Regions from separate parts of the Homo sapiens genome. Here region 1 is linked to region 2. Evidence: fine-mapped expression QTL. A gene starts in region 2. The other region holds a variant in brackets. All regions are shown on one strand. Distances are from middle to middle.

Evidence for each region. PIP is the estimated chance that this variant, and not a neighbour inherited with it, causes the effect.
Region 1: its variant is fine-mapped to the expression of DAGLA in testis (GTEx, PIP above 0.99). The same link has a PIP of 0.9 or more in tibial nerve.

Annotation. Positions count from the first base shown.
Region 1 is chr11:61,706,511-61,722,233 of GRCh38, reverse strand. It overlaps DAGLA (diacylglycerol lipase alpha), which reads right to left. Exons shown (of 20, transcript NM_006133.3): 2 at 1,984-2,122; 3 at 1,344-1,555. The coding sequence starts at 2,078. Among named protein-coding and RNA genes, the nearest start is that of DAGLA, 34 kb to the right of the region's middle. RefSeq lists enhancers at 931-1,715, 2,503-3,288, 4,076-4,861, 5,648-6,433, 6,434-7,220 and 1 more. The variant C/G (reference allele first, on the strand shown) is at 8,067.
Region 2 is chr11:61,674,723-61,688,166 of GRCh38, reverse strand. DAGLA (diacylglycerol lipase alpha) reads right to left here and starts at 7,776. Exons shown (of 20, transcript NM_006133.3): 1 at 7,663-7,776. RefSeq lists enhancers at 4,231-4,904, 4,905-5,579.

The sequences.
Region 1 (15,723 bases), 33 kb before region 2:
TCCTAATCTCTCTGAGCCTCCATTTCCTCATCTGTAAAATGGGAGTGACAACATTTATGTCATAGGACTGTGCAAAAATTAGATGAGAGCGTGTTCACTTCATGGAAACTATTTCCCAGCAAGAGGCCTCTGGAACCTGATGGAGGAGAGAGGAAGGGCCCAGCAGCTGGTCTGCATCCAGCTCAGGCCCCTCAGGGGCTGAGACTGGAGGGGAGGGGTATGGAGTGGTGGCTGAGAAGGAGATCTGCTGGCCTCATGGGGGCAGCCTGGAAAGCCCCAGCTGCACGGGCAGCAGTGTGGCAGCTCAGAGACCAGACTTTGGAGCCAGACAGCGTGGGTTCAAATCCCAGCTCCGACATTTACACGCTTACTAGTTGTGTGAGAGCTAGGCCTGGGCCCCAGTTTCCTCATCTATAAACGGAGACCAATAACACCCACTCCCTGTGAGTTAACACAGGAAAAAGGGCCTAGCCCAGTGCACAGAAGCACAAGAGCAGTGTTCACTACAAATGACCAGAAGGGGCTGCAACCTAAGCCCAAGAAGAGGACACAGGCTGGTCCTCTGGGGAGCTGGCCCAGACTCCTGAGGGGGTTCCCAGGAAGCAGAAGGCCTGTTTTGAGAAGGATCACAAGGAAGATATGCTTTGAAGAGATGCACATGGTTGAGGATGGGGTCAGCACCTTTTCCTGTAAAGGGCCAGAGAGCAAATATCTTGGACTCTGGGAGTCCTACAGTCGCTGTAGTAACTACTCAACTCGGCTGCTGTAGGGGCAAAGCAGCTGGAGACAATACCTTACTGAATGGATATGTGCCAATAAAACCTTATTTTCTTTTTTTTTGAGATGGAGACTTGCTCTGTCACCCAGGCTGGAGTGCAGTGGCGCAATCTCGGCTCACTGCAACCTCTGCCTCCTGGGTTCAAGTGATTCTCCTGCGTCAGCCTCCCAAGTAGCTGGGATTACAGGCGTGTGCCACCACACCTGGCTAATTTTTGTATTTTTAGTAGAGACGGGGTTTCCCCATGTTCGCCAGGCTGGTCTCGAACTCCTGACCTTGTGATCCACCTGCCTCGGCCTCCCAAAGTGCTGGGATTACAGGCATGAGCCACCACACCCAGCCTAAAACCTTATTTAATAACACATACAGCAGGCTGGATTTGGCCCTCAGGCTGCAGTTTGCTGGCCCCTAGTCTAGAATGTAAGCTACAGAAGGCCTTAGTTCACTGCTGTACCCCAGTGCTAAAACAGGGCCTGGCTCGCAACATGTGCGCAGTAAATACTGGCTGAGTGAATGGAGAGGTGGGAGTTGTCTGGGGCAGCACCCCAGGGTGGGTGGCCCTTACCCAGGCGCACGTAGAGCACGTACTGCATGGAGTCACGGGGCTCCGTGTAGAGGATGCCCCCGCGCATGCTCAGCCAGATGATGGCCATCTCAGCGATCATGCAGCTCAGCAGGATGCCCAGGTAGCCGCGGCCGTGGTCCACCAGGTTCAGGGAGCAGGCCTCGTGCGGGTTATAGACCAGGCCGAAGAGCACCACGGACAGGATCACAAACCTGTCACAGGAACGCCCGTGTGAGCAAGGCCAGGTGGCCCCTGTACCTCGAGATGCTACTAGCAGGCAGGCCCTTCCCCAGCCCAGATTCAGTGGAAGGAGGGCTGGCAGCAGGCACCTCCTCCATAAGACCATTGTCCACCTGGCATCGAATGCCTAGAAGGGCATGGGCGGCCAGTAAAAGACTCAGGGTCAGCCATGGGGAGACAGTAGCAGCAACTCCCCCCAGTGTTGGGGTCAGGTCCAGCAATGGTAGCAGGGGTGTCATTGCCCTAAGGGGCTAGATGTTTCAGGCACCTCCTCCGGGCAGCTGGGGGCATGACAGGGTTGGGACTTGGGCCCAAGCAGGGAGGAACAAATGGCCAGAAAGCGTCCTTCCAGACCTTTCTCTCCAAACCCAGGCCTGTGGCCCCGGGCCTGGGGACTCACCAGGTGGTATGCAGGAGAAAGAGGAAGATGGCCGGTAGGACGAGGTCATCACTGCCCACAGACCAGCGCCGCCGGAACACCACGATCCCGGGCATGGCTGGTGGCTCTGCAGAGGCTCAGTGGGCCTGGTGCTCACCTCCTGAAAGAAAGCAGAGGACCTTATAGCTGCCTGAGGAGGTGAAGGCACCCAGGGCCACTGCATTCCTTGGGCCACGGGACCAGTCCCCGGTGTGGCCAGAAGCACAGGCATTTTTGGAGCTGGCCACTGGAAGTGCTGACCCACCTCCGGGCAGGAGCCAACACAAAGGACCTTAGCAGCAGGACACAGACTTCAGCCTTCCCCCTGGAGTCTCTCCTGTCCCCCGAGACTGGTACTGGCCACTAGGGATCGGCTTCTACCTGGGGTTACCCCAGCAGTCACTGTTGAGCTCTATTAAAGACCCCGTTTCCTCCTTCATGGGATCAGTGGGACCCTCAGCCCAGCCCTCAAACCCTATAATCTTTAGACCTGGCCCAGTGCACACTGTCCTTGGAGTCAAGGGAGGGGCTTCCCAGACCAAGAACAAGCCCACCCAACAGCACAAAGCCCAGCAGGGCAGGAGGAAGGCTGAAGGCCTTGGGAAGGTGGGGGCAAGGGACCCTGTATGGTTGGCAGCTGGGACTGACAAACATGGAAGGTGAGGAGTGCCTGGCATAGAGCAGGTGCTCAGTAAGTATTTCTTGAATGAAGGCTTCAGTTTCCTGCTTTGCTGGAAGCCAAGAGCGTGCTCTATGACTTGGTTTTGAACCCATCAGACAGAAGTCCCCACCACAGCTATGCCTCCAGGGAGGGAAGAGCACGGTTGAGGTGCAGGGTCAGGAGTAGGGCTTGGGACACCTTCCACCCCACACTGCTGGAAGGATGGGGTAAGCCCTGCAGGGTCACACCCCTCCTGGCAACCATACCTCCCAAGCCCACCCTGAGCCATGCAGCTTTTCCAGCTGGATTTTCAACTCTCTGAAGTAGCTGAATTCAAATCAGCCCCAAGCAAGCTCAGGAAAGAGTGCCCAGGAACTCAGGGCCCTCACTCCTTAGCATCCCAAAGAGAAAGGAAGCAGCATGGGTGGGAGGTGACCCCACAGGGAGCTAGGTCCCCAGAGATACCCATAAAGGGCTCCAGGGTAGCTCTGCACTAAACTGCTGCAGGGGGCTGGGGACCAAGTTGGTGGGCAGCTGTCCCCCGCCGGGGGCCAGTAGAGGCTTACATGGCACCTGGTCCGGGGCAGGCGGCAGATCCTCCTCTCCCCAGTGGCGGCTCCAGGGAAAATGTGTGTCCGAGGAGCCCGGCATCATTCGGGGAGGAAGCAGCCAAGTCTCCCTTGGCCAGTGGGCATAGCCCCCAGGGTGGGCGAGAGGGCGTGGGGCCAGGTGGCCAGCCCGCATGTCCGCCCGGCCCGCCTCCCTATCCCCGGTGCAGCCACTTGGCGAGCTGTGGCCTGGCGGGCTGGCGGGCTAGCCTGCCGGGGTCGTGCCTACTCCTCCCCCCACCCTCAGGAAGTGACATCATCCCACTCTCTCTCCAAGGAGGAGTCGGAGCTCAGCTTCTGGGAGGCAGGGAGAAGGGTGGAGAGTGAGGGAGCATGGTGGTGGGGTGGCTGGGCTTTGGGGGTGGGGGGTGGTCTGTGGACTGCAGGGGTCCGGGGCGTCAGCAGTGCCTGTGACATGTGGCTGACAGCACCAGCTTCAGATTAGGGTTGGACACGATAGGACAGGAGGGGGGGCTGGGGCACCGTGGGTGGCAGTTGGGCTGGGGCAGAACAGAGCTGCCAACAGCTGGTATTGCCGCCCCCTCCCTGTCTCCAAGTAGCTCACAGAGGGTAAGGTGCAGCGCTGGGTCGGGCTCAGGGGGCTGTCGGGGCTGCCAGGAGCCCCTCACATGAATGGAACAGAATGAAATGGAATGAATCTAGAGGCTGGGGGGGCAGTACGCCCCCGCAGGTGCTGTAGAGCCGCATCCTGCTCTGATCTGGCCAGACCAGGGGAGGAGGGAGCAGTGCTGTCCCAGAGGGGCTGGCTGGAGGGCTAGGGTCTGGCCCTACCCAGCCTGCCCCCAGGCCTGCCTCTGCCAGCAGCCAAGAATATCTCCTTCTCAGGTCCACCCCATGGATGGCCCCTCTCAGTCACCCTGGGAGGTCCCTCCTCTCACTCCCACCCTTGGACCCATGGAACCCAGGATAGCTAACACTCCTCGAGATCACACACCATCCACCCAACACACACACTCACTCTGCACTCCCCTCCTCTGCCCGAACAATGCCCGCTCGCTTCAGCTCTCAGGCTGGAAGGAGTGAGCCGAACCTGGCCCTGGGCCCTGCAGAGGTGAGGTGGCTGAAGGACTGTCAAGACGCTGGAGGGATATGACCAGTGGTAACCACTGCCCCCACCTCAGGGTGACCAGCCTGAGGCCAATTGCCATGGTCAACAGCAGTACCTACCTAGAGTATGAGGCGGGGCTCCTGGGGGCCGACCCTGCTGGGTACCCAGTGACAGGCCTGCACCAGTGGCCGGCCCACCACCATAGAATCCGAGGCACAGAGGCTGGGACACAAGTGCCAGGCTGGCTGGTTTTGAACCTGGGCTCTACCACGTACCCACTGTGTGACTTATTAGTCGTGCCTCAGTTTCCTCAACTGTAAAATGTCGATTTGTAAAATGTCGATTATCCCTACCTCCTAAAGTCCTGGTGAGAATCACATGAGAGGTCTGCAGAGGCTCTAGCTGTCTTAGCTGGGGCGGGCGAGGCGGAGGGAGTGCAAGGAACCCCTTGCTGGACCAGCCACCCCTCCCGCCTGGGCTGGTGGAATCTCCGGCTGGTCACCAACAAGTCAAGGTCTGGGGTGGGGGTGGCAGGGCCTGTGCTGCATAAGGGTTGGGGGTGGGCTGCACCACTCTCCAGGCCAATTCATACATCTCTTGGGGCTATTTTTAAGGGCCTTGAATGGTGCCCTTTCTCTAGAGACCCCGGCCCATCACAATAAGGGCCTGTTCCCCTGCTGGGGATGTGATTTCATCTGGAGGAAATGTCTCAGGAGCGGGGAGGGCAGAGGCTACTTCCTGGTCTGGGGCTGCCACAAAGCACCTCTTCTGGCTCTCCTCCCCTGGGGCATAGGGTCCTCCCCTCTAACAGCCACAGTGGGGCGGGGGTAGGCGCTGCCTGCCCTTCCTATCCCACACCAGTGGGGCTTCCAGGGCAGGCACGGCATACCTTCCAGCAGGGGCCACAGGGGCACTGCTGGGGGCTCCTCCTGCCTCTGGTTGGACCCCCAGCACAGGCAAGTGTGAATGGGGTGCCAGGACCCCTCTCACATGGATGGAATGACTTAAGCAGCCCAAGGAAGCCTCCTTCTTCCCCCACCCACACAGCCCAATTTTCCTGCTGGTGATTCAGGCCCCTGGACTAAGTACTAACCATTCTGGGAGTTCCTCTTTCTAAAAATGCAAACTCTTTTTAAAAATGCATATGCTGCCCCCTACTTTAAAAACCTTCCTGGCTCCCCATGGCCTGCAGGACAAAGTCCAAGCCCCTCGGGCGGCAGCGACAGGCGGTGCAACCTCAGGCATATGCCTCGCCCTCTCTGAATCCACGCATTCCCTTATCACCTGAGCAGAAAGCGATCCTGGTGCAGACAGACTCCAGCACAGAGCCCACCCTCAGCTGACAAATCCTCTGGCTGGAGAGGCTCTCCAGCACCTTCTTACACTGCCACATCCTTCTTTCTCGACACCCCAAACATGCTGCTCCCCAGAAACACATCACTGGAAGGGTCCATGCTTTGCTTACTCCAGTTCTGATGGGTGAAATCCAACTCATCTCTCTAGGTCAGCTAAAAGTCACCTCCTCTTTGAAGCCCTCCCTGACAGCCCTCATGCAACCCACTCTCCTCCTGGGAAACAGGCTGCTCCCTTATGGGAACCCTAGACCCCTTCCCCCAGCATGGCCCTGGTCACACTGTGTTACGGTTAACCTGCTGACTCCTTGCTGCCCATCCCCACCCCAGCTCAACAGTCCCCGGGGCCAGGGTCTCACAGTACCCATCGCCACACCTCTGGGTGCCAGCTGCAGTGCCTGGCTCCAGCACCTCAGTCCCACCCCATGGCCTCCTCAGCACAGCTCCCCTCCCAGTCACAAGGGCTGAGACAGTGGCTCCTTCCCCCTCTGAGCTCACACCCTTCCCTTCTGGGGAAACGTCCCTCCCTTCCTGACTGTCAGGCTGGGTTCCCACCCCAGTGTCTTCCCTGACAGCTCAGGGAGAACCCTCTCCCCCCCCTCTGGCTAGATGAACTGTTCTGGGACCTCAGTTTCTTCTCTTGTAAAATGGGGCTAACAACATCCCTCTCAAGGCTGTGGTCAGAACAGACTGGGGTGATGTCACTACAGGACTCTGCACAGGTCCTGCACACCCCAAGGATCTGCTGATGGCTGCTGTTGCATTAGCAGACACCTGAGGGGCTTTGTGGGGACCTCCTGTGATGTGACCTGTGACTGGGTGCTGGGGTCTGGAAGGTGCTGCTGGTGCCCAGCTGGTCAGAAAGGGCTGGAGTGAGCAAACAGAAGCCCTGACCGAGGAGCCTGCCCCCACCATGAGTGCTCCGGTGCTGCTGGTAAAAGCACCCCAGGCTGGGCCTCGCCCCCTCGTCCTAAGGTACCCTGTGGGCTTGGCCCTGGGAGCAGATTTTAAGGAGCAGAGTCCCTTGGCAGCAAGACTCCCAGCAGATGGGGCTCCAAGAGCTCCCAGGGGGATGGGGGGGAAGAAGGTACTGGCTCAGCCCTCTGGAGTGTCCACAGGGAACTGGACAATGAGCTTGGGAACCCCCACGAGTGCCACCTCCAGCCCATGAGATTTCCCATCTGGCCAGAGATGGCTTTGGTCATTGGCCTGGGGATGGGATAGAGGTTGTGCCTGAAGGAGGGGATGACAGCCAGGTCCAGCCATAGGGATCCATCTGACATTAGCTGAGCACCTTCTGTGTCCCAAGTCCTGGACTAACCGGCTTCAGTCCTCACAGCAGTAACACAGGGTCGCAGTGTCGCTCTCATTCCACAGTGTGTGCAAGGGGTGGTTAAGACCCTGCACTCTAAAACAGGCTGCATCTGAGTCTTGGCTCTGCCACTTACTGGCTGTGTGACCTTGGACAAGGTACTTAACCTCTCTGTGCTTCAGTCTCCTCACTTCTAAACCAGGGATAAGAAGAGTACCTACCTCCGAATTATCAGGAGGGTTAAATCAGTCAACACTTCAAACAGCGCCTGTCATCTGGTAACTGCTCAGCAAATGCTGCCACTGCCATTACTATTACTACTGAAGAATGAGACTGAGATGCAGAGACTGCCTGACACCATCCGAGGATCAAGAGGCCAGGCAGGCAGGAGGCGCAGGTCATTCCTGCTGCCATCCAAAGCCCACACCTAACAAAGGTCAGAGTTAAAAGGAGTCTCAGAACAGTCCCACTGTCCCCTTTCATGGGCGAGGAAACTGAGGTTCAGAAAGAACACAGAGGCCCTAGCTCTTCCCGTGATATCCATCCCAGCAGCGTCACTGCCAGGTGCTGGACACACAACCCAAGCCCCCAAGCCAGCCTGCTCCCTTCTACCTCACTACATACCCCACTCAAACTCCCCAGTGACAACAGCATTAGTAGCGTGTCACCACAGGGAGCCTGGGCTGAGATCCTCTCTTTCACGATCTTGAAGATGCCTAACCCTCCTAGAAGCCAGCAACATCCACAGAAGCTCCCTCACAGGAGATAAACCTGCAGGGAGGCATCAACCATGTGCCTACTTCAGTCACCTGCGGCTGGCTCTCCTGCCTCCAGCGGTGGAGTCCCTGTTGCTCTGCAGCAGCTGTGGTGACAGAGAGGAGACTCTCAGACAGATCCAGAGAGCCACCTTCCCTGGGCCCCCATTTTACTCCTGCCTCTGGGGGCTGGTGATGGGGACCAGGTCCAGCCACATCCTAGAGCTGCCTGGTGCTGAATGAAGAGCAGTGTCCCCAGGACAGAAAGTCCCAACCCCTCTAGGCCCCAGTAAATCAAAATTGAGGGC[C/G]GGGAGGATGAGTCCATTGCACACATGTGAGACATAAGGGCCCCCACGGTTGCTATATGTAAAACTAGCACTGGACGCCACACTTCCTGGTTGCCAAAGTAAATGTGGAAACTGGCAAGTTTGTAAGGGCTCTTTTTCGCTCTGCAGGGTTTTTTGACCCTTGGTGTCCTGAAGGGAGAGCCCAGGACTCCCATTTCCATGACGAATGGGATTCCTATGTGAAAGGGCTTTGAAATTGGAAGGTGGTCCAAAATAGTGGAGAGGAACTGATGCCTACTGCCTGCTATGCTCTCGTGGTCCATCCGATTTTGAATGTGCCTTGTTGGGCACTGGAGCTTATCTGGTCTGGGGGTGGGCATCTGATCTGCGGGACTCAGCACAGTGAGGCTGGGCCCCCCAGTGGTGCCCCGCAGGACACTGGTGGCCCGCCCCCCAGCAGAGGCGTTGTGTTCAGAGGCTCCACCCCAGCTAGGGTGGGCTCACCAGCAGGTCGCTGTCTGGCCTCGCTGGGCTGGCAGACAGGTCCTGCTCTCTTTAGCACAGGCTTTGGTCGTGGTGAGATTCCAGCTGTTCACTGTGGCTGCAGGACTGTGGTAGCGAGTTAACCTCTCTGCACTGGTGAAACTGCAGGCTCCAGGATCCTGGGTAGTGACAGGGACAGAATGATCTCAGCCACCTATAAGTTGGGGACTGGGCTGCTTCGGTTCTCCTAACATTTATGAATTGCCTACAAGGTCTCGGCGCACATCTATGCCCTTTACAAACATGAACTCACCTAGTCCTCATAACAGTTCTGTGAGGTAGGTACTACCCTTCCCCTTATTTGACAGATGAGCTGAAGTGACTTGCCCACAGCCACACAGCCTAGGCCCAGAACCCAGGTCTTTACCTCTGCATGCTGTTTCTGAGAAGCAGGATTCAGCTAAATGCCTGTTTCTGAACTCAAAAGCTGGCTCTAAGCCTCTTCTTACAGACTGAGGAGCTCTCTGGGTCTTCATCTAGCTTCAGACTCACAATCATGTGGGATAGCACGGGACCCATTCTGCAGATGAGGAAAACTGAGCCCAGGGGAATTCCACGGAGCAGGCTGTGGAGTCGGGAGAGAGCAAGGCACTAGAAACACTATGTGTCATCCACCTCCAGCCTCATCAGGCCACAGGGTATTACCCCAACTTTACAGATGAAGAAACCAAGGCTCAGAGAGGCAAAATGGTTTGCACGAAGATCCCTCCACGAGGACATCGCAGAGCTGGGATTTCAAGTAGCTTCCTTGAACTACTTGCAAGAAAAAAATACCCTCTCTGCCTGTCAGTCTGACTCCTTATTGTCACAAACACAGAGACAGTAGGACCCACAGGTCCCACCCCAGGCTCCCGGGGCTACAGTACCTTCCCCTTCTTCCCAGTGGCCGAGAGGCTGGCCTCTGAAAGCACAGGAGGGGAGAGGTGACAAGGGAGACGACGGAGAGAAAGCACGTGTGGGCTGGGGGCCACGTGCGCCACCAGCCTGTACCTGGGTGTGTGCAACCCAAGTTAGGGGCCTGAAAGCTGTCGCTTTTCACACATCAGCTGCGCTAGAGCAGAAGGCAGAGCGGAGCCTGCCCAGGACTGGGGCCAGATTTCAGCATGAGATAGGTCCTCACACGCCCAGGCCTAGGGATGAAAACAGTGTGCCTTGTGCAGCCAGGGGCAGGAGTGGGAGGCCACTGACATTTGTCCCCTCCTACCCGCCGCCCAGGGTCTTAGGCTAACAAACGCCTTTCCCACTCTCCCCCAGGATGGCCTGGAAGGACCAGAGGAGGCACCTCCTCCACCCCTCACCATGTGCCAGCCACATAACCATCCTCACTACAACCCCAGGGGTGGGTCTAGCTGTTCGCATGTCATGGATCGGGAAACTGAGGCTCCAAGAATTTAAAGAAGCTAGCAAGTGAGTGTCCAAGTCAGGCTCTGAAGCCAGGTCTACCTGCTGTGTTCTCTCTGTGCCCTCCTCGTGCTTCTTGGCCAGAGACCCCTCCCCTATAAAACAGCAGTCAGGGAGCTGGGCACAGAGTTCAGGGAGGAGGACGGAAAGAGAAGCTCCAGTGACTTGGGGGCAATGCCAGCCTGGGCCGGACCCAGAAATAGTTCCAACAATTACTCGATCGTGTTTATTTAAAAACAAACTCTTATATAGCATTTACTACATGCTGGTTACTTTAACAAGCAGTTCACAAAAATTACCTCCTTTAATGTAATCCTTTTAACAACCTCTTATGCCCTGTATTATGGATGAAGAAATGGAGGCCCAGAGAGGCTAAATAAGTTGCCCAAGGCCACTCAGCTCTTCAGCGGCAGAGCCAGGCCTGAGGTTGCAGGGCCTGTGCTCCAGGCCTCTCCCCAGAAGGCTTCACCAGGGCTCCATTTATTACCAAGGCTCCAGCTACTCGTTCTCACGCTAATTATTTTCTACTCATCCACAATGAGCAGAATTTGCCATCTGCCACCAGCCCTGCTACTGACACCAGCCAACTCCCTGGGAATCAATTGAGGCCTTTCGTTTCCTGCTGGTTATTTTGGAAAGATGGCTGGCTGCTGGGGAGCGGGAAGTGAGGGCCAGGAGGGCAGCAGCACCCTTCCCTGGCGACCAGGCTGGGCCCTCCTCCTGCCCCCAGCCTTCCTCTGACCTCTCTTCCCAGGGGGATTCACATCAGAGCCCACTCAGTCCTGTGCTCCGACAATGTTTTCCAACAGTGGAAGGAGTCCCCCAGGCTCTGGCCAGACCAGGTCTGGCTTCTGGATTCTTCCTTGGAGATTATTCATTTTTCTGAAACTCAGAACAAGCCCTTGTCCCACACGTCCACATCCCCTCTGGAGAGGCCCAGACAGGCGGGTTCTGCTGGCCTCTGTGATGGGTGCGGCCGGGCAGCCTGGATCTCCAAGCCCTCACGCAAAGGCCGACACCGCCCCACACTGGGTGGCACCAGGCTGTTTTCTCCTGCCTGTCTGTGGGGAAGGGTGTCTGTGGTTTTCGTCCTTTCTACCTGCCCCGGTGGTCTTCTTGGTCAGTCCCCTCATGCCCTAACACGTCTTTACCCCACTCTCCCGGGAACGCGACTCTCTCAAAGGCATCGACTTGGAGGGGGTGGCCATCCAATGAGCTGACCGAGGCCTGCCTTCTGGCCCCAGAGCAGGGCAGCCCGAATTTGAATCTTAGTTCCATCACTTCTAGTTGTCTATGACTGTCACTTCACTGAGCGTCAGTCTCCTCATCTGTAAGATGGAATAATGAAGGTACTCACTTCATAGTGAGTGAGTCATGAGGAGTTAACGAAATAACGCACATAAAGTGCTCAGCTCTTAGAAAACAGGAGCTGCCATCATTGTGATTTAGTAACCATGTCTCCCCAGTGTGCGCAGAACCTTTACCTCACCTTGCATGGCAGGGGCAATAACTCTCCGCGATCTAAGTCAATCTTCCCAAACAGACAGGTGAGCAGGCTGACCCACACCTGCCCTCACCCTTCCAGCCTGCATAATCCTCTGACTTGCCTTCTTGGAAAGGGAGAGCTCCAACTCCTAGGAGCCCAGCACGGCCGCACTGGCACTGCCTCCTTTAATCCACAACCACCCAGGGAGAGGGGACCCAACACCCCTGGGACAGCTTGAGCCACAGAGTTCTCGCCCAAGGCCACAAGACTCTAGAACACTCCAAAGCCTGAGATCCTGCCAGGATGCCCCGCATCTATCAGCTTGCATGTTTGAGTTTCAGGGTGTCTCATTGCAGGCCCCTTCCCAGCTCAAACGCAGGATGCCCTGAGAGGTAGCGGTCCCCCCTCCCTTTAAGCCCATCTGCCCTTCCAGCTTTCCACTGGCCCCACCCTCTGCTCCTCCCCCCAGAGTCACCCCCTCTCCTAGGAGCCACTTGCTGGGACCTCACTCCCCAGATGGCCCCCCTGCCAGGCAGTTCATCAGCTCCCAGCACGAATCCCAGCGCTCTGGCTTCTCAGAACTTCCTTGAGAGGAGACTCCGTCTGGGTGCTGGCAACGCCTCAGTGAAGAATTAGTACCTTCCACTTCATTAGGGGCCCCCTAATGAAGCTGTTAATGATATGCTAAGTGGGCACACCTAGCCTGATGCCTCCCCTCTTGGGGCCCCCGCCCCCTTGCCCAGCCTACCCTGAGCCCTGGTCCTGCTGCCTCCTCTCCTCAGGCTGTGGGTTGGCCCTCGGGGTCTGGCTGGTGTGGGTGCCTGCTGCTCAAAGGTGGGGAGGCTTCGTGGGCCACCTCCCTAAGCTGCATGGCCATCTAGGGCACAGGCTGGCCAACTGGGCTATTGGGTTTCCCTTCGACTGTACCCCGGGCATCTCGGAAGCAAGCAGGGATCAAGTGACTTCGTAACAGGAGCTCTTTCCCCAGGGGAAGAGGTTCTGCAGAGCTCTAGTATGTGACAGGAAGGGCCAACATCCCCTGCCCCCACAGAGACTGGAGAGGGAGGTGGCACCTGCCACCACCAATGGCACACAGGCTGCAGCCCCGTCCCCTCCCTCTGTCACCCTCCTCTCCTTCTGTGCTCAATGAGGGGGATCTCAGTGCTCTTCAGTGGGTTTCCAGAAGCCCTCAGGGACCCCAGATGAGGGGAGGTGGCCATAGTGGGCAGGCTTCAGTGGGCTTGCAGGCAATGTCAACCACAGCAGCTTTCAGCTGCTCTGGATCACCTGAGGTCAGGAGTTCGAGACCAGCCTAGCCAACATGGTGAAACCCCGTCTCTACAAAAAATTAGCGGGGCGTGGTGGTGCATGCCTGTAATCCCAGCTACTTGGGAGGCTATGGCAGGATAATTGCTTGAACCGGGAGGTGGAGGTTGCAGTGAGCGAAGATTGCGACATTGCACTCCAGCCAGCCTTGGCCTCCCAAAATAGCTCTAGGTGACAGAACTAGACTCTGTCTCAAAAAACAAACAAACAAACAAACAAACAAAGTTTGAAAGCCACTAAGCAGGATATGCTCTCAGGTCCATTCTAGTCTGGACTTTTAGAGTTTTACTTGCAGAATGGCCAAGGAGAGAGCCTGGGGGCTACATACAGGTGCCTGAGCTCACACAATGATCACAGCATTTCCTCCCCTCGCCTGAGCCAGGAGGGCAAAAGGGGCCACAGAAAAAAGTCACTGACCCAGAAGCTTAGAGACCTGGGCCTACAGCTGACTATTCTGTCCTTCAGACCTCCCTATCCCCTCCCATCACCCCAGGCAGGGCAAAGCTGGACCCAAGCACAAGGCCTCCAGGAAGGGGCAGGGGCTCAGAAGGCCCCTGCTGCCGGGTGGAGGACAGGACTGGACCCGGCTTTGGTCCCAGTGCCTTGATTTACTCAAACGGCCACAGAGTTGTGACCTTCAATATACAACGCAGCCCTCTCCTCGTCTATAAAATAGGATGAGGATGATGACAGTGCCTCCCTCTTGGGGTGGCTGGGAGGACAAAGCGAGTTAAAAGTTGTAAAGTGTGAGGCTGGGCGTGGTGGCTCACGCCTGTAGTCCCAGCACTTTGGGAGGCCGAGGCGGGTGGATCACGACGTCAGGAGATCGAGACCATCCTGGCTAACACGGTGAAACCCCATCTCTACTAAAAAATACAAAAAAAATTAGCTGGGCATGATGGCGGGAGCCTGTAGTCCCAGCTACTCGAGAGGCTGAGGCAGGAGAATGGTGTGAACCCAGCAGGCAGAGCTTGCAGTGCGCCGAAATCACGCCACTGCACTCAAGCCTGGGCGACAGAGTGAGACTCCATCTCAAAAAAAAAAAAAAGTTGTAAAGTGTTGAAAGCAGGCTCTGGCTCAGAGGAGGAGATTGGTGACATAGAGCTTTAATTAAATCAACCCCCAAGTCGGGCGCGGTGGCTCACGCCTGTAATCCCAACACTTTGGGAGGCCTAAGCGGGCGGATGACTTGAGGCCAGGAGATCGAGACCAGCCTGGCCAACATGGCGAAACTCCATCTCTACTAAAAATACAAAAATTAGCCAGGCATGGTGGGGGGCACCTGTAGTCCTAGCTACTTGGGAGGCTAAAGCAGGAGAATCGCTTGAACCAGGGAGGCAGAGGTTGCAATGAGCCGAGACTGCGTCACTGCACTCCAGCCTGGGCAATAGAGCAAGACTCAGTCTCAAAACAATAAAATAAATAAATAAATAAATAAATACATAAATAAATTCCCTTCTCAAGAGCCTATTATGACTCCTAAATGCCCTTTAAATAAAATTAAAACTCCCAACCATTAGCTATAAAGCTCTCCACCAACCACACCCCTACCCCGCCCTGCCCAGCCCTGCCACCAGCACCCATACCCTCCACCTTGTCTGACTCTGTCCCTGCCGGCCGGGCACGCCCACTCCCAGCTCCTGTCTTTCCACCTGCTCAGCCACTGAGTGCACCCCATGCCCAGGCATTTCCTCCTCTCCAGATGGCCCCGCTTGCTTTGGGCACTCCGCCCCGACATGGCCTCCACAGCCTGCGAGGCCTGCTCAGTGCCTGTCCCAGCTGGCCTTCAGCCCCAGCCCTGGCAAACCAGCCCACAAATGACCAGGTAAGCCCGTGACCCACTTTCCTGCATGCTTCTGGTGTGTCTGCCTCACCTCCTCCATTACACTGTAGTTCCCAAGAAGACCCTGGCCTCCATCTGCCTCTCTCCCAGCCTGTGGGGGAATAGGCCAGGAGGCTCTGGGCAACATAGAGACTGGAAAGGAGAGGGGAGAACAGGCCTCCACGATGAGGGGAACCCCATCAGGCCCCTGACAAGTGCCAGCCTCTGCCTGCCCATGCCTGAGCAAGGCCACTGACCCACTCTGTTCTGGGTAGGTAAGTGCCCATCTGCTCGACCTCTGACCCCAGAATTTGGCATCACTTTCCTTCCCAAGAGACTCGCCCAGCCTTGTCACGCTGTCACTTCTGCGGCCTCTGCTTCCCGACCTGCTCAGGGTGTGGTGGGAGGTGGAGCTGGGGCCACATGCTCGGCACAGCCCCTCTGGCCCCAGTGGCACTTCACTCCCACTTCACGAGGACACGGCAGGGAGGGGGCGGGAGTTTGGCAGGGCTTCATCCCTGTCAACCAGGGGCTGGTGCCCTCGGCCCCCCTAACTATCCGCAGTGGGGAAAAGGCAGGCTCCCGCTAACCCCTGCTGGCCCAGGGGAGGTCAGTGAAGCTGCTGTAACTCCAGGGGATGAACCTTTCCGTGAAGGAGCTGACGGCAACGTCTGAGAGAGACCAGCAGTGCTAATGGGATGCCCAGCTGGGGCTGTCAAGCCAGACAAGGTCCTGGTGAGACCGGCAGAGGCCAAGGCTCCTGCCAGGCAGAAAGTGGCACCTCGTCTCCTCCAGGGTTTGGGGAGGCAATCTGATAATGCCTGCTTCCTCAGCAGGCCCAGTCCTAGGAAGACTCTGGGGTGGGGGTGGTGGTAAGGGAGTCAGCGAGAGCTAGGGGACCTCGGCGGGGTCAGCCTGCGTCACAGCTCATGCTGACTCCTCCACCTTCAGTGGCCGCCGGCTGCTATAAATACCACTCCTGTCTCTGGATGTTGTGGGAGGTGACCTAGAATCATGGGCTCTGAGGCCTCCTGGGTGCACCCCCCGCCTGTTTTAGACAGAGCCTGACGACCAGAAAATCCTCACAGGTTAGAGCCCAC
Region 2 (13,444 bases):
ATTTTTTATATTTTTAGTGAGACGGGGTTTCACCATGTTAGCCAGGATGGTCTCGATCTCCTGACCTCGTGACCCGCCCGCCTCGGTCTCCCAAAGTGCTGGGATTACAGGTGTGAGCCACCGCACCCAGCCATCCCTAATCCTTTGTTAGTACAATGTCTTTCCCAAAGGCCTTTCCCATCCAGTGTCACCTTTGAACAGTGAGGGAGACAGGACAAATATCATTGCTGCTATTATACAGACAGGGCAACTGAGGCTAACAAAAGAAAAGTGACTTGTTCACAGCTGCCCAGCAGAGCCAGGAACACTCCAGGCCCAGCAGTCCCATGCTCCTTGTTATGGTCATGAGGATTAAATGAGAGAAGATACAAAAAGTACTGAGCTTGGTGCCTGGCACCTGTGCTCCCTAAATGTTATTTCGCCATGATTGTTATGCTTCAGTGAGGACACAGATCAGTGAGGGGAACACACATGCTCTCTCTGAGGGGCGCCAGCGCTATTCAGATAAGAGAGTGCTACAAGATGCCTTTGTTTGGCCAGGCGCGGTGGCTCATGCCTGTAAGCCCAACACTTTGGGAGGCCGAGCGAGGCGGGTGGATCACCTGAGGTCAGGAGTTCAAGACCAGCCTGGCCAACATGGTGAAACCCCATCTGTACTAAAACAAAAATCAGCCGGACGTGGTGGCACGTGCCTGTAATCCTAGCTACTAGGGAGGCTGAGGCATGAGAATCACTTGAACCAGGAGGCGGAGGTTGCAGTGAGCTGAGATCACACCACTGCACTCCAGCCTGAGTGACAGAGCGAGACTCCGTCTCAAAAAAAAAAAAGAGTGCTAGAGTCAGTGGAGCATGGAGAATGGCCTCATGGAGGAGGTGGGATTGTGTGGGACCTGAGGGAGAGGTGGCGTATGGACAGGGACACCAAAAAGAACCCATCCTGGGTTCAAACCCTGGCTCCCTGCCTCTCTGAGTGTCCCTGAGCAGGTGATGCAAGCTCCCTAAGCCGCCCGTAAGATGGAGGTTGGAGGGATGGGAGCGTGCAGGGGGTTGCTGTTGCAAGGAGTAAATGACATCCTCTATACACTCTCCTGGGTTCAGTTCATCCACATTCAGAAAATGGAAGTTATTGTTACTAGTATTATTTTGTGGCTGAGCAAAGCCTCCTAAAGACACGCCCTGGTGCCCTCCCTGACCCCAAACCTGAAAGGCTTTGAGAAAGCTAAGTGCAGGGCCCTGTCCCCAGGAGACAGAGGTGCAGCCCCAGGGAGCCCACTCCACGGTGTGGCCTGCCCATCAGGAGCAGCCAGGGGCTGGGAGGTGCAGCATATGTTATATAAACGAAGGGACATCAATAATAGATTAACCTCAAGGAAGTCCAGGAACATCAATCATCAATTAATTAAATGGCTCCAGGAGAGACAATGACGAGGGGCCCATTCAGGATGAATTCGAGGCAGCATCCTGTCTCACCTTACACAGCGGAGGGCCACCGTCCCGACCTCCACCCCAGAGCCGCAGGCTCCCTGGCCAGGACCGTCTCCAGGTGTAGGACTGGTTTGCAGGAGCAGCCCCCAAACACAGGTGAGGGCAAGCCCTGTTCTCCTCCATCCTCCTCCAGGCTCAGAGAACTCCCAAACACTGAAAAGGTTTTGATGAAACTTCCCAGAATAGTAACCTCCTGGGCTGAACTCAGGCAGGCGAAATTTCAAGGGGTAATTTGGTGAGAAAATGATCAAATGCCTGGAAATAAGTGCTGTGAACACTGGAACCCCCTCAGTGGGTCCTCAGGGATGGGAACGGCCTCGAGGGCAGCCCTGAAAGCCTGCCGTTCACACTCCCGCCCAGCACTGACGGGAGTCAGACCCGCTGAAAGTCAAGTGTGGGCAACACATTCTAGGCAGCGATTCCGAGGCCCAGCTCAGCTTCCTGGCCCCACTTCCCACCCCTTCCCCTCCTAGTGACCACACTGACCAATCTCATGATTTCTGTCTCCCTTCCATAATCAACCAGGCTTTGTCTCTCCCCTTTCCCCTGCAGAGTGGCCACTGCCCTGGTTCAAGCCCTCTGTACCTGGGCACCCCCTACTCTTGTCCCTCAGTACCCTGCTGCCATACCACTCTTCCTGGTGGGTGGCACCAGCCTCCAAACCCTTGCTCAGAACACTTCAGTGAATGCCCATGCGTTCACAGATTGGAAACCAAACCTTCAGCCCTGCCATCATGGCTCCTGGGGACCCAGCTCCAGCTCATTTTTCCAATCTTAGCTTTCACCACTTCTGTTGTATGCGCCCTACAGCACACAACAGACGGGCAGCAGTTTCCCCTCCCAGCCACCAGTCACCCCGCCAACCCGCCCCCGTTGCTGCCAGTTCCTCTACAAGCACCTTCCTTTGTTCACTCCCACCGGTACCCATGGCCCACATAAAAAGGCCGTGGCCACCCGAGTCTCCCCAACCTCCCTGGCTCGAGTCACTCTCCCTCCTTTGACCTCTGGCATCACTCATTTCTAGAAATTAACTATATCTTCTCAACAGATTTTAAGCAACTTGAGGTCAGAATCTACACCTTATAGGCTCTGGTATGACCACCTCATCTGCATGCCCTCACTAACCCCCAACTCACAGCAGGCGCTCAAGAAATAACTATCGACTATGTCCAAGTGGAAACATTCCTCAAGGCTAAGATATACTCTTGCTGATGACACTGCTAACAGATATGCAAGATTCTGTCTATCCCAAGGATGTGGGGAGCTAACTTCTTATCAAGTAATGAGACCCATTACATCTTCCCTACTGCTAATATATGCAGATCACGACATAACCACTTCTCTATGGAAAGGATTCCGGCCGCAAGAGCAAAAACATTTTTTCAGTGCGTGTTTTCATCAGGATCTCTCTACGCACCAGGCATTACCTGGGAGAATTCTTGCCATTCGGCTCTCGGAGGTTTTACTGTCCCCATCTTACAGATTAGGAAACTGAGGTGTGCCAGCATCCAATCTGGGTCCGTGAGGTTCCAGAGTCTGAAGTCATAACTACCCATGGGCTACAATGCTATCTTCTGTCATGGGGGGGAGGGGACTGTCCCCAGCTGACTTCCAGGTGGTTCAAGGAGGAGCATGGAAGCAGGCGTGTGAGACGCCCCCAGGTAGCACACAGAAGGGTGTGTGAGAGCCCCGCCTGCAGCCCAGCTTCCTTCTAAGGAATACTGAGAAAGCACTCGGCTCCTCATGTAAAGAGTCATAACATGAGGTATGAAACCCACCCTCTGCCCTCCCACAGCCTGAAGGCAGCCTCCTCCGACTCCCACTGTTCCCTCCTGCTGTGAAGAGCCCGGCAACCCCCAGCTCCGCACACCCACCAACACCAGGCCAGCCAGACACGGGAGCCTGCGCGCTCCCACACCACCAGGCGCTCCACACCCCCTCCGCCCTCACTTCCCACAGAAACACTTATGGGCACAAGCAACTTTACACACGTGCACTCCCCGGGCAGCCCCGCGGTAATAACAGCCCCATCCCCATCTAGAGGACTTAGGCGTTCCTGCCAAACACCCCATGAAAACACCCTTACCCGTGGTCACACCAATCCCCTCCACGGCATCTCCCTGGACTCCTTCCTCAGCAGCAAAGAGGTCCTCACAGATAAGGCAGTTTCCTGGGTCTTTCCTGCCCACACACACAACCCACGTCCACACCCACACTCACGCTTCCCATCCAACCCAGAAAGACCACGCCCAGCCCAAGTCAGTATCAGAAACAAAAAAAGAAAATCAAAATAAACCATTTTCAGCCCTATCCGCTGGGGAGGTAACCGCATCCTGCAATGTCCTGGGCTCCGCGGTTCTAAAAGATTTATCTTCCTCTGACCACATGCTCATTGATATTTCCCCCAGCGCTACTTGCCCAGTCCACTGGAGTGTAATGTAAAGCTATTCCGGTGAGAAATTGAAATCACAGAGTGATGGGCCAACAGGTGATTAAACACTGAGGTTCCCCTCTGGTCTCGAGGAGAGGGACTGGGGGAGGAGTGGCTTCCAGTGACAAGCTGTGCCTTCAGCTGCAGCCTTCTGGCCCGCTGCTGTCAGCTCTGGTCCAGCATCCTCTGGCCACAGATGCCTGGCTCCCCGGCACCCCTAAAGCACAGCAGCCAGGCACTGTGATTTATGGGGCAGCTGAGGAATTGCCAGGAGCTGAGGAAAGCAACTTTTAGAGAAACATGGACAAGGAAAATGGGAATATGACTGGGGACCAGAGTTGAAATATTGTAGCTCCAGGGAGCTGCTTGCCCTCGAGGTCCACTCCTAAGTGACTGGCCCCCTGCCTCAGCTGGAACTTACTCGAAATCAGCATCTGTGCACAATGACAAGGGTGCTAACCTGGCTGGGCTCCCTGCTACCCCAAAACCCCAGGACTGGGAAGAAAGCTCAGCTCTCCTTTTGGGGAACAGAGGCCAACTCCTCCTCTCAGTGTCTTCAGATCTGCCCTGCCTGCCACTCAGCTCTGGTGGGCAGTCCCAGCATCCCAAGCAGAAGGCAAAGGGTGGCTGAAAAGGGCTCCTGGAGCCCCAAACCATAAGGCTGAGCCACAAATCAGAACAAACAGGAGGAGGTGTGGAGGGTGAGCTGAGGAGACTTGAATACTGAATATTCACAACAGGGAGGCTGTAGGCTTCCTCCTTAATGGACTCTGCACTTAAGAGAGCTTTCCAGACATGAGCTGAAGTGCCCAGCAACTCCTCGGGGGAGGTATGAAGCACTGCAGGGAGCGGGTGAGACAGGCCATGGATACCCCTCAGACCAACATGGGAATGACCAGGGAAGCACCTGCAATGCTGGACAGTGTCTGCGTGGCAGCTACGGGGACAGGGCGAGTCCATAGCATGGAAAAGTCAGCTCACAACCCTGGGTCTGGGAGGGCCGTGTCCTCCTTCCACCCACATGGCTTGACACTGCAGCCTGGGCACAGGGCAAAAACTTTCCTCGGGGAGCAAGGATGTGAAACAGGTTGCTGGCTAAGGCAGACACCCGCATGGAATGCTGAAGAAACGGCCTGGGTGAGAGAAAAACAGGACTTCCAGCGCCATGGGGCAGGGTCTGCAACTCAGGCTCTGCAGCTTGTTGTCGGGAATTAGGCTCCTGGTGGCAGAGAGCAAAGCACTGTGCAGCCACCCTCATCCTCCCCACCTGGGAAGGCACTTCAGCCAGAAGTGGGGCCACATTGGGAGAGGTGCCACACCTGTCTGCCCTCAGAGGTGCCTGTAGCCCCCTTTCCTTTCCCCTATGTGTCTGAGGGCATCCTCCACACCTCCCCCCCCCGTCCCCCTGCCATCCAGCCTCAACCTCCCGCAGAACCATCCAGACCTGAGCCACATCGATCTGTGGATGCTCTGACCCACTTCATTTCCTTCAGGCCACAGCCCAAAAGACGCTGATGTGACTGCTCCCCACCCCCGTTCTCAGAACCCAGAGCCAAAGGAAATTCTCCAGAGAAAACACACACACTTCCCAAGTCTTCCTCCCACACAGGTACCCTAGATCTGTCAGCCACAGACACCTCCCAGACCTACCCTGGCAATGAGGCACGTCTGCTGCCCAAGCAAAGTGCTTCCTCCTGCTTGGGCCACTCCTGCAGGACTTCACAGCTGCCGGGGCCATGCTCAGGACTGTCCTCTGGAGACCGGGGGCCTGGTTCCAGCTCAGCAGCTGACTCACAGTGTCAACAGATCCCACTTGCCCCCACCGGGAGCATGTGCGCTCAGGGCCTCTAATTCCCTATGACAGGCCCTCAACCTTCCGGCTCCCTTCCTCCCAATCACATCCCGTGCCACCATTTCCTATGGCTCCTGCCTCCAGCCCTGGTCTCTTTACTTGATGAGACTCTCTGACCTTTGTACAGTCTTTCGCTGTTTGCAAAGTGTTTCCACGTGCACCATTTCCTTTCATTCTTTACTACCAGACCACCATGTGACATGCCTTGATTGGTGAAGTCACCTGCTGAAGGTCACACAGCCAACACTGGAATTAAAGTGATATGGCTCCAAAGGCATCGGACAGTGCTCCGGTTATAGGGAACTCATCAGCATCTCCAAGCACCCACCTTGGCAATTTGGCGACCACCTGCCACCCTACCCTCAACATCATCTTTTTGGACTCATAAGTGCCTTCCCCAGCACAAGCTCAACCCTGTGATTCTTCTACCACTGATCCCACTCCCCCAAGAGATCCACAAAGAACTGAAGATTTCCCCTACACTGTAAGACTTCTCTAGGAGGAGCTGCAAATTGCTTCTCTGTAAAGTAAGGCACTAGGTGATGCTGAGTGAGACCTTCACCCAAAGCTTCCCAAAGGACTGGTGAGAGCAAACACAATCTCAGCGCAGATGGAGGGGTTTTAACATAGGAGCTAAGCAGAGAGGACAGACAGAGCCCTTGGAAAGGAATTTAAGCCTGGGGGTGGGAGTCCCGGTGGCCCCAGCAGATTCCCAGTGGCTGCAGAATCATCTTTCAAGCATACCCCAATCGATCCAATCCTCTGGACCCAAAGGCTCCCCAGCATCAAAGAAGAGAGGCAACTCCCAGATACCCTGGAGTGAACCCATCAACCCAGGGAGAAGGCAGGACCCCGTGACTACAGATAGATGGTGCGCCATACCACTCCCTCACTCGCTGACCCGGGTTACCTCTTGGTCCTGCTTGCTTCTCAGGACATATTCTGGGACACCGATCACCACTGAAAATCATCCACCCCTCCCTTCATTCCCAAAGCTAGATGAAAAGCTAGATGAATGGTTCTCTCTACCTTAGCCCAGGACAACGGTAGTGCCTGGAAGGTCTCTATCTGGGTTACCATCAGGGCCCTTGTGGTAGAAGCTTCTCCTGGCATCTCTTGTTTATGCCCATTATAAAGGACACCAACCTTCTCCCAGCCTTCTGCCCTCCTCAGTCCAGTGTACCCAACAGGCATTAAAACTGGACCCCCATGACAGAGGCAGTGTCCCCTTCATCGCCCGTGAGGAAGGATGGGCATTTACCCTTCCCATTCATCAGGATGGGAGGGCCACGGACTCCCCCCGCGGCAGTGCCGGGTAGCCCCCCGCACCACACCGTGCCAAGGCCCTTTCTCACAGTCATGCCAGGAACTCTAGCCATGCTGAGAACACCAATTCTTCAAGCCCCCAGTGCTATCACCCCAGATCATGTCAAGCCCAAGGCCAGAACCATCCCAACACCCAAGCAATGGCAGCACTTCCTCACACCCATGCTAGCGGCACCACCATGCCGGCACGAGCTGGCCACCTATCCCATAACCAGTCCGAAGGCCGTGCCCATCACCTACCTGTGCAGACAGCTGCACCACCTCACACCTGCGTGGCCACCACCGCACCAAGGTGGAGGCGAGTCTTCTGAGACCCGTTCCAGGAAAACCACGCCGCCTGTGCCGGACCCACGTTGCCCACGCCCGTGCCACGCGTGTCACCATCCCCACGCTGGTGCCAGGGGCTCCACAGACCTCACACCTGCCACGGGCGCGCGTGGCAGCTGCAACTCCGCCCGCCGACCCGTCGGGCCGGCCACCGCGCGCCCTGGACACTGCCCAGCCCGCCGCGCCGCTCGCACCGCGCCCGCGCCCAGGACCGGCCCGCCGCGCCGGAGGCCCCCCTTACCTCCCGCCCGCCGCAGGGCTCGGCCCGCCGCCGCGACCGCCACCTCCATCCTGGGCTCCCCAAGGCCCCGATTCACTAACGCCGCTTCCGCAGGGCGCCGGCGCCGGCGCGAAGGCCGCCTCCGCCCCCCGGGGGACGCTGCGTCCTTTACGTAAACCCCTCTCCGCCGCCAGCGGTGACCATGGCGACGGTCGTGGGGAGGCAGCGCCCCCTGGCGCCAGGGAGGGGAGCGGCGTCGAGGCCAGGGAGAGCCGAGTCTTCCGCGGGCGCCGGCCCTGCGCGTGGGGGCGGTGGGCGCCTGGCTCAGGCTCGGCTGGGGTCCCGTGGGCGGCCGGGAGGGGCTGGACTGGCCGCGATGCGTGCGGGGAAGGGAGCCGCCTGGGTGCCTGCCCCTCCTTTAGGTCCCTCGTGACCAGTTTTAGCGTGGGAGAGGGAAAAAAGGAAGTAGGATCACTGGAGAACTGGTTCATTTGTGGGGAGGAGAGAGACGGGTCCCACCTCCTCGGGGTGACTGAACTCTGCTTGAGAAGTCAGAGCATGGCTAGAGTTCCTGGCGTGACTGTGAGAAAGGGCCTTGGCACGGTGTGGTGCAGGGGTCTACCCGGCACTGCCGTGGGGGGAGTCCGTGGCCCTCCCATCCTGATGAATGGGAAGGGTAAATGCCCATCCTTCCCCACGGGCGACAGAGCCCGTGGGTACCCTGGGTACCCCCTCCTCCCTACCACCCCCCCACCCCCCACCCCTACCCCCGTTCCCAGTGCCCAGCATCGTGCCTGGTCTCCAAAGGGGTTTACTTGGTCAATTTTGAATTTCTGGTAAATGAAGAAAACCGCCCCTCCTGTTCCCCTTCACGCCCTTTCATTCACCGTAAGTCGCTTACACCTCCCTGGGAGCACTGTGCTGAACTGGGGGAGTGGAGCACAGAGAGGAGCAGAAGGCGGGCCCTGACTTCAAGGAGCTCATTCTGCTGGGGAGGAGACGCAGATGGAGGGGGTTTTAACACAGAAGCTAAGCCGAGAGGACAGACAGAGCCCTTGGAAAGGAATTTAAGCCTGGGGATGGGAGTCCAGTCTGCAGGTCGGGATGACTCAGCTGGGTCCCAAAGATCCAGTAAAGATTCATCAGAGACAAAAAGGGGAAGAACGTTTTCTTTCAGGCAAGAGAAGTGCCTCTAAAATGTTTCCTAGGCCCTGTTGCCACCCCCAAAATCACAGTGATCGCGCAGTTCAGTAGAAGTGGGAGCCATAGGTGAACAAGGAGGTGTGGGTAGTGGGGTGCCCGGCTTGAGCAGAAGCCTCGGTCTGAAAATTACGTGGACATTTGGGTTGGAAATGAGACTGTGAGGCCAGGACTGCCTTTTATTGAAGCAGATGGAGCCACTTCTGGAAGGAGTTCTGTGTTACCTGTGATTATTTAGAAAGCAAACTCACGTAGGTAACAAGGAAAATGAGGAGTGGGCGCATATACCCAGTGGGGCACCTCAGGGGATTCAAGGAGGAGTTGAATTCCTCAAGGCTCAGGAAGGGCAGAGATCAGGGGAGGCTTTAAGGGACAACTGTAGCAGTATCAGTTTAGGGATCTTCTTTCTAGATCATTGCCATTAATCAGAATCAAAACTGCCAGATTGGATGTCTCTTGGTTCAAAGTTCCCGATTCCCAGAAAAAAAGAATCTTATTAGTCCAGATCAGGCCACGGTCAATCAGCTATGGCCAGGGCAGAAAGTGCTTTGTGATACAAACATGTCAGTCCACTTTTCCCCGTTGAGAGACACTCCCAGAGGAGGAGAATCATGACCTGAACAGCCAGTCCAAAGACTGTCGGCCAGGGGCGGTGGCTCATGCCTGTAATCCCAGCACTTTGGGAGGCAGAGGCAGGTGGATCACCTGAGGTCAGGAGTTCGAGACCAGTCTGGCCAACATGGTGAAACCCTATCTCTACCAAAGTACAAAAATTAGCCTGGCATGATGGCAGGTGCCTGTAATCCCAGCTACTCGGGAGGCTGAGGCGGAAGAATCACTTGAACGTGGGAGGCAGAGGTTGCAGTGAGCCGAGATCGTGCCATTGCACTCTAGCCTGGGCAAGAGAGCCAGACTCCATCTCAAAAAAAAAAAAAAAAAAAGGCTGTCTACTACGGATCCATCCCTTAGCTGTCCCATGTACACAAACTCACATGTGTCCATGTGCACACATGTGTCCCGACACACGCCAGTCCTTCTTCCCATTCCTCCAAAGTTGTCTTCACCAGACAAGTACCAACAGTCACCTTCACACTTGATGTCATGAGGCTACTATTATTTCAAGATCTTCAAGGTGATTGATCCCATCTGGTCATTTAACTGAATTAAAGGGTTACTTTTACCATCACCAAATCCTTTGAACTCTTGCTACTCAGAGTGAGACATTGGCACCACCCAGAAGCTTAACGGGAATGCATAATCTCAGGCCCAAGAATCTCAGGTTGGCAACAAGATTCCCAGGTGATTTGAATGCACATGAAAGGCTGAGAAACACCACTATTATAAATGTTAGGTGACCGGGTGCGGTGGCTCACACCTGTAATCCCAGCACTTTGGGAGGCTGAGGCGGGTGGATCACCTGAGGTCAGGAGTTCAAGACCAGCCTGACCAACATGGTGAAACCCCATCTCTACTAAAAATACAAAAATCAGCTGGGCATGGTGATGGGCACCTGTAATCCCAGCTATTCGGGAGGCTGAGGCAGGAGAGTTGCTTGAACCCGGGAGGTGGAGGTTGCAGTGAGCCGAGATCCCGCTACTGCACTCCAGCCTGGGCAACAGAGTGAGACTCCGTCTCAAAAAAAAAAAAAAAAAAATAGGCCCAGCGTGGTGGCTCACGCCTGTAATCCCAGCACTTTGGGAGGCCGAGGCAAGCAGATCACAAGGTCAGGAGTTCAAGGCCAGCCTGACCAACATGGTGAAACCCCGTCTCTACTAAAAATATAAAAATTAGCTGGGTATGGTGGCGCGCGCCTATAATCCAAGCTACTCAGGAGGCTGAGGCAGGAGAAGCGCTTGAACCTGGAATGCGGAGGTTGCAGTGAGCCGAGATCACGCCACTACACTCCAGCGACAGAGCAAGACTCCCTCTCAAAAAAATACATACACACATAAATGTTAGGTGAAAGGAAAAGGAAAGATAACAAAAACATTTTCAAATTGTGATTCATATTTTCTTAAAGGGGGAAATGGTCAACTATTTAATCTTCAACAACTCTAGTAACAAGCAAGGAAAGACAGGGAGGGACTGCAGTCTTTATTTTTGCAATTGGTCACAAACTCCTAGAAGGTACTAGCGAATTCCATCCTCTAACGCCTTATTTCTGTGTTCTGCAGGTCTCCTGCCCGATTCTTATTCAGTCAGGATTCTTTGCCTGACAGACTGACCTAAGCCTTCTTCTTGAGGGCTGAGCCATGGCTGTAAGGCATCTCAGCAGGCTTCCAGCAACATCGACCACTGGGTACAATGATGTAAGAGGTCCTTCACGGGGGTGTGGGTTCTACCCATGGTGTGTGTGTGTGTGTCTGCGTGTGTCAAAGATCCCCAGATGGCCAGTCCCAGTTTCCAGTGGAACCACAATGGTGCCTCCTGATGGATTTGCTCCTCCCTTCCATTCTAAAACCACCAGACACACAATCAAAACCCAGAGCCGCCTGCACAGGAAACAGGCATTTTGATGAGAGAGAGGGGCACCCTCATCACTTCTATTTCTAGTTCCAAGACGCTTTGGAAGAAACATATCAGAAAGGGTGGCTGTTCCAGAGCACACACTCCCCACAGACCTGACCTGGTCCAGCTACCAGAGGTGCATCCTCTCCACGCCAAAGCCATGCCTGGCCTTCTCTCTGAGCACCTTCAGGCCCAGTTCTGACAGCATTTGGCCAGGTGTCTTTGGAGATAGTCACCAGCACTGTGAGCAGACAGGAGCTGGGGAGGAGGACAAGAGCGAGGGCACCAGAACAGACAAGTCGTAGACTGGTCCCAGTCCAGCTGTCAGGCTGTGCTCCCTCCGCTCTGTGCCAAGTTCCCACTCTGGCCTCAGTTTCCTTCTGAGTCCCAGTGGGGATAATAACATGACTCTTCCTCCTGCGGGGCTGTGCAGATTAACTAATTAATGAGTGTGACAGCGTCTGCATCCACAAAGGGGCTGATTAAATGCTGAGTGTTGTTATTAGTAGCTGTGGCAGTTGTGTGACAGGCAGTTGGCTGGAGACAGATCTGCCCCCTGCCTCCTCCCCATGGAGGACCCAGATGGAAGGGTCCTCCATCTGCCCCATGCTCCGCAAGCCGAACATCTTGCAAGACAAAGCCAGGATGATTTTTAGCACCCCAAAGACAGCATAGAACTTTTGCGCATTTCCCCTGTGCTGGAATGTGAGTCACAGCCGAGCTTCATAGTGTAATCTATCTCCGACAGCTGGCACAGCTGTACCCTGCCCCAACTCAGCTCCCAGCAGCTGCAGGATGGGATGGCTTGGTCAGTAACTGCAGTAGGGTAGAGCTGCCTGCAGAAAGACAACTGCAGAATTCCTAAGCTGAGCACCATCCCCTGACTGTATTGCCCTGTGGAGGCAGGGATTGAGTGACCACCTTTCCTCACTGCCTGAGATAGTGGGAGCCAATATGACACCTTGGCTAAGCAGTCAGGGGAATTCAAAGCATGCAGGGTTTTAAAGTATAAAGTATCTGCTCATGGCCGAGGGAGATATAGTGACTATATTTTAGCTTGGCTGCAGGGTATAGGATAACTGGATGAAATCACAGCTCTGGGGCATGATAGCTTTAGCCTAGCTTATTCCCAGACGTAGAAAGTCCAGAGAGGCCTCCGAGCTAAACAGTGAATGTGACTTTGCAATACACAGCCCTGGATCCCGTAGTATGTGTGAGGTCTGTTGCCCACCCCTCCGATGCTGGGTCTTCCACCCTTGAATGTGATGAGTGCTGGTTCCCACCCTGAGTCCTGATGCATCTGACGAGGTGGGTAGGAAGGAACTGCTGCTACCAGGTAAATAAGTCTGTCTCTGACAACCGCGGGGAATGTTGTTTACCCAAATAGCACAATCTCAGCCTGTCTGGGGAGGCCAGAGAAAAGCTCTGGAGGCTAGGCTGCAGACTGTCACAGAGGGAGAAATTAGCCAGTTGCAAGGTCTAGCAAATCCATGTGAAATGGACCTCAGGACACCTGGAGTCAGCTCTGGATCACCAGGGCTTCTCCTAGTAGGATTTCAGACCTTCTTGCTTCTGAAAACAGCGACTTTCCCTGCACTGCCAGAACTTTTCTCTCCCTGCCTTCCTTGTCCCTCCTGCTATAAGGTAACATGAATGGATCACAGGACCAAACAGGCTAGAAGTGGGAGCTGGACCACAAGGCTTTGCTGGTAACCCAGGGGTTAAAATGTTACCCACCACCAAGAGACGAGTTGTTCTCTCTTGCCAGAGGGGCGCCTACAAGCCCCTATCTTTTACCTGGTAAACACAATTTTCAGTCAGAATCTCAAAAATCTGTGTGGTAGTGGTTGTAATGGGGGTGGTGACAGAGGAGATGCTGGAGGTGGTGACAGTGATGGCAGTTTGGTGGTCATGACAAGAGGGAGGAGAACAAGGACTGACAGCTTCCTAGGGGAAGCTCTGGGAGTTTTTTCCACCTCTGCCTAATCCCCATTAGTTTGGGTATCACCAGCACTTCCCCTGAAATGCCCAGCGGATTGGGAGATCCTTGCATCTCATTAAGCAGCCTATTTGTGTTTGCTCGCTGATGGGTATG